2 linked regions of the Homo sapiens genome follow. The protein of the gene in region 2 interacts with the protein of the main gene of each other region in a pairwise test. Each region holds a gene or a part of one and is shown on either strand. Other genes may lie near its edges.

What was found.
Region 1: the proteins of KRTAP12-1 (region 2) and RBPMS interact in binary tests that used the Homo sapiens proteins (3 or more experiments, as listed by UniProt).

Annotation. Positions count from the first base shown.
Region 1 is NC_000008.11:30,569,541-30,572,756, reverse strand, and holds the end of RBPMS (RNA-binding protein with multiple splicing), read right to left. Parts: intron 2,121-3,216; coding exon of another isoform or gene 2,027-2,120; 3' UTR 501-2,026; downstream 1-500.
Region 2 is NC_000021.9:44,681,076-44,683,471, forward strand, and holds KRTAP12-1 (keratin-associated protein 12-1), read right to left. Parts: upstream 1,089-2,396; 5' UTR 1,049-1,088; coding exon 758-1,048; 3' UTR 501-757; downstream 1-500. UniProt on the Homo sapiens protein: In the hair cortex, hair keratin intermediate filaments are embedded in an interfilamentous matrix, consisting of hair keratin-associated proteins (KRTAP), which are essential for the formation of a rigid and resistant hair shaft through their extensive disulfide bond cross-linking with abundant cysteine residues of hair keratins.

The DNA of each region.
Region 1 (3,216 bases), on a different chromosome or scaffold from region 2:
AGGACCACAGGTGCTAGTACTCCTGGCTAATGTTAAAATTGAGGGTCTTGCTGTGTTGTCCAGGCTGGTCTCAAACTCCTGGGATCAAGCAAGCCTCCTGCCTCAGTTTCCCAGTGTTGGGATTACAGGTGTGAGCCACCATGCCTGGCGTAAGATATATTTAAGTCAGCAGAAAACCCAAGTGACATTTTAATATAATTCAGATAATCCTGAGTCAAGCTTTGTAGGCTGAGGTAGATGAGGGGCCTCCCTTGAGGTCCCTCTGCCTCTGGTGTCATTGTGGGTCACCAGCCACTGTGGTTGTGCGTTTGCAGACTTACTCTCTGGCTTTCCCCGGTATCTGCTTCCTCCTTTAATCTCTTTGTGCCTAAGCTCAATGGCCAATGCTTGCTTAGCTCTGCCGAAGCCTGACAATGGGAATGAAATCTGCTGGCGTCTTGTCTGCAGTGTGGGATACATGTAGTTGGTCTTGCTAAAAAAGAATTTGTCAAGCAATGGTGTGACAGCTGGAATAAGCACTTTATTTTTTAAAAATGACAATAGAAAAGTACCTTTAAACAGTTATAAAAGCATAATAGACTGCAGAAGTGGCTATTTTCCTTAGGAGTACAGTCATCTCACCAAGAGCCGATTGGCACTGAGGGCATAAGCAGGTCCTTGAACACCAAAGTGGATCCGTCACAAGTCCTTGAGCTAACTGCCTTTTCCCCTTATTTACGGTAAGAAAGAGCCCCTCACTCCTGGCCTTGGTTTTTTGTGTTGACCTTTAAAAGCTTCTTGACATCTTTATATTTCTAATGGAAAATAACAAAACAAAAACCCAAACCAACCAGGTAATCATGACATTGAAATTTTCAACATAAGCCGAGCGGATCAATAGGAAAGACTGTGTTTGGCAGCTGAATTTAGGTCAGTGTGGTTTTACAAAAATGGCTTCTGTACAAGGGGAGAGGTTGAGCTGTCATGAACTCTGGAGATGTGTCAACTGACAACACCAGACTGACTTTGGCTTTGACGAAGTCTGAATAGAATTGGTTCCAAATGCCCACTGCCTCCGTCTCCTGTGGGGTGTGGCAGGACGTCTCACAGTGAGCACACGCCATTTGGGAGCTCATGGTATGTGGTCGGTTTGGCCCAGTGCTGCCAAGAGTTGGCAACACCAGCTCAGTTCAGCCGGTGTTTTGCAAACAAACATCACTTTGGAGATACAGACATGAGCTGCCCACTGCAGCCAGGTGGGCTGGGCACAGCCAACCCCTTCAAGGGCCAGGGCTGGCCTCCCAAGCCAAGGTTTTCCCTTACCAGTGAGGCAGGCTCTGCACTTACACTGCGGGAGCAGGGATGCGGGGCTGGCTTGTGGAAGGTAGGTTAGGCATCGAGTGGCTACACATACAGGAGAGTGGAAACATAAAACTGTACAAAGTCACACTTGGCACACAGTTGATATAGTCACAGCTGGAGCTACTAGGGCTTTCTAAGGGCACACTCAGCAGTTCTTACCAATGATGTTTTCTTGCCCAGTTGTGAATAAGCCATAGGTAGAAGCTCCTGGAGGCTTCTGGTTGATTGTCTTGCAGGGCTGTCCTACTAGAACTGGGATCCTAGACCTAACACTGCAAATAACAGTTCTGTTTCTAACATCTAACACCATGCTACTAATTTACCCTGGACTCCGGCCAGGCACAGATTTCTATATATTCACAATACAATTCAGGATATTTTGATAATATTTGGAAACATGCCTCAAACATGCAACTTACTTCAGAGGAAAAAAATAGATATTTTTAATTACAAGCATTCAAAAGTCAAGAACAAAAACTGTGATCCAAACCAGTGTAAGATCGTCCATCCCAGCATACTTAAAATGTTTGGTATAAAAATACTCACTTTTCTTGGTTTTATTGTTGACTTCTCTTACGTTTCGTTTGAAAATATCTCCAAACTGTACAGAAATTTCAGACCATGCATTCACAAATAATACGCTATTTCTTACAATTATACAGTGTAAAAGAGTAAAACATTTTTATTAATTATATTTTTTTCTTCGAGAAAAACAGATGTGTGATAGAGGCTGTGACAAAGTCTTGAAGGGATCAAAACTGGGCAAGGGTTTTTCAAGCCTGAAACAGAAAGAAAACATGTTAGGAGAGCAGGTGTCAACCCCTCCCTAGTTGCGATGGCTTTGTCCTGGAGATGCTGTGGATGGGAGAACGGATGGGTTAGATGACAGTGTGCGGATGTGTGTATAGAACATATTTGCTGACCACATGTGTCAGTGGTCTCACCTTGATTAGAAACATGGGGCAAGTCCTTGGCTCCCGCTCACAAACCCCTACCCTGGCCCAGAGGTTTTCTTGAAACACATCTCAGCTATATTGTATTATTCAGTCACTCCTTTTCCTGCCATCTTACCAGCATGTCACACACGTTTGAGAAGTTGTAGAAAAGGTGTATGCAGAAGGCAATCAATCAGCTCAGCATACACTAGAATTTTGTACAGGGAGATGCTTATTTGTGTGCCGAAAGAGGCCATAAACAGATAATTATTGATAACCTATTTAAATGTCCCAAGTTAGATTTTGTCCCAAGTTAGATTTGGGAAAATGTGTTTTAAAAAGTCCTGAAATGAGAATATTTAGGTGACCACTGAAACATAGCGTACGGGATGAGCTTGTAAATGTTCACACCAAATCTGTCCAATTTGTATCTGACCTGTGACTTTTCACTGCCCAGTTTTTGGACGACAGTATGAGTGGGTAGCGGGTAACGGCCGGCGGAGCAGGGGCAAGCCAGGCAGAGCTTTCCACAGTGGGCCCTGGACACCCTGGACCTTCTCTGTGACGGGCGACTAATACTTGCCTGTCTCTTTAGGTTGTGGCAAATAAATAATGACATTAGTTCTAGCACATCCGCTTAAGTATGCTTACTGTAGACAGCCCTCAAGGCAGCCAAATCCAGACTCATCCCTGTGCACCCCTGGCCTGTCCCTGCCCTTTACACCGACCTCATTTCCTGTCCTCTTGGCTCATCTGCTCCTTCCACTCCACCATCACCATCTTAGGGCCACCTGTGCAGAAGTGTGCTTCTACCTCGAATCTTCATCTACTTTGCTTTGGGCAGCATGACAACAACATTCCTAAATCACTCTCCACCCCTGCTCATCTTTCCAGTGGCTTCCAAATCCCTAACACATCCTTCAAGGCCTTCAAAAGCCTG
Region 2 (2,396 bases):
CCTCTGTGTGTAAAGTATTTCATATGCCCCATAAATATGTAAACATATTATGTATCAATTTTTAAAAAGTGCCATATGTAGATCAGTGATGGGAGTGTGTGCTGCAGAACTAATCCAGTTCTGTAAACCTGAGATCCTCCGCGACCCGGGAAGCAGGACATCCACCAACCACATGGGAAAGCCCGATCCTCAGTGCTCTGAGGCTTTGGCCATCAATGCAGGGCTTGCTGGCCTGGAGCAGGAGTGGACAGCCAGTGGGGAAGCGAGGCCACTCCACCACAGGCGGGTAAGTCACCGCTGTGGCCACTGCAGCTGGGCCCCAGGAGCCCTGGGAGAGACCACATGGGCATCTGCAGCCGCGCCCTCCACCCGGGACACCACCTTCTGATGAGCACTGGGTGAAGGGATCACTGAAGAGGGTTTAGCAGCAAATTCTATGTAATCAGCAGAATAGATAGCGGGGAGTATAGAAATAAAAAAGAGAGACAAGAAACGCAGAGTTGCATGGGGAAAGCTGGTTTATTTGACTCTCATGGGGTCAGAGAATGACTCTGGGACCCCAGACTTCCCTGGGGGGATAGGCAAGTTCAGCCAGGGCTCCAGATCATTCTATTATATTCTCGATCCAGAATTCAGAGGGTTCACTGAGCATGCTTTTCACCTGCACCATGTGCAGAAGACCAACTGAGGACTCATCCAGGGAGTGTACAGGTGTGGCCTCATCTGCACTGGGAGCAGCGGGTCTGGAGATTCATGCTCAGCAGCAGGAAGGGGTGCTGCAGGAGATGGGTCTGCAGAGGACGCTGGTGCAGGAAGGCTGGCAGCACCCAGAGGACTGGCAGGAGGGAGCCGCATACACGACGGGCCTGCAGCTCACGGGCACGCACACAGAGGACTGGCATCTCACGGGCACACACACGGCTGGCTTGAAGCTCACGGGCACGCACACGGAGGACTGGCAGCCCACGGGGATGTAACAGGATGCCTGGCAGGGGCTGGGCGCGCAGCAGGCTGGCTGGCAGCCCGAGGAGCAGCTGGTGTGGCACATGGTGGCGTGTGGCTGGATAAGGTCGAGGCAGAGGGCAGTGATGTCTGGGGATGGCCTCCCTGGGTAGCCTTTATACCTGGACCCAGGCATCCCCACAGCACAGAAGCACACACCTGTTGTCTTCCTTGTTTTTCTTCCTCAAGGCTGTTTCCTGGAACTCAGTTTTCTGTCGTAGATGATGTTTTTTATCTGGCCCTTTGTTTCGTGACTAATTGCACCCTCTTCAAGCTCTTGTTACATTTGGAAACCTGCCCAAATTTATCAGTGATGCACAGGCAGTTTTAGCTCCACCTGCCTGATATCTGCCTCCCTTCGTTAGTTCTACGCTGAAGCAGACATGAGTGGTACCCAAAAGAGCTCCTCGAACCGCAACTTCTGTTGCATCAACCAGAAACTTTGGGGAAGAGACCAGAACTGAATATAGACAATGAAATCATACTGGGGAACCTGCTGGAGTGAGTGATGCAAAGCTGGCTACTCTATCAACTATACAGTTGAGATTTAGGAGATGCTCGTTTTCAGGCAGCCGTCAACCAGCAGTGCAGACTGTGCTTCCTGAGAGAGAAGAAACTTAGGAGATAAACTCCCATTTCCCAGCTCTCTGCTGGGGCAGGCTTCCAAAATGCAGTGTCACCTTCCAAAATGCAGTGTCACCAGCCGGAGTCAGAGCAGAATACAGTGACCCAACTCTGCCGAGGAGGAAGGGGCCAGCGCTCAAGCAGCTGAAGCCCTGGAGTCCGAGGAGCAGAGAAGCGGAAAGAAGGATCCGTGTGGAGAGCAGGCCCCACACTGTGGAAGCTGACTGTGAATCTGTGGAACGGGGCAGGGCTGTGCATTCCCAGGGCAAGGCAACCACAGGCTCACCAGAGAGAAGCTGCTAGAGGATTGAGAGTGAAGCCCCCCTCCAGTCCCCACGTCGACATCCAGCCGAGACCCCCTACAGCCCGGCACCAAATGAGTAAGGACCACAGACTACAGTGAGACCCGCCTAGGCCAGCCCGAACAAAGCCTAAACCAATTCAGAATAGGATTTTTAGGGAAGACAGTTTGGAATGTGAGTCCCACCAAGATACAGAGTGTTCCAAGTTGTAGATGCTTCCCAGAGATCCACCCTAGCAAAGTGTTGAACAAAAACTGCACAAGATTAAGGTCATTCTCCAGTAACTGACGGCTAGAACAAAAATCAGAAACATGATACAGCTCAGAGTCTGTAAATGCATTATTATGATACCTCATACACAATCAAAATCATCAGATATTGACCAGGCACGGTTGTTTATGCCTGTAATCCCAGCACTTTGGGAGACCAAGATGGGAAGATTGCTTGAGGCTAGGAGTTTCAGACCAG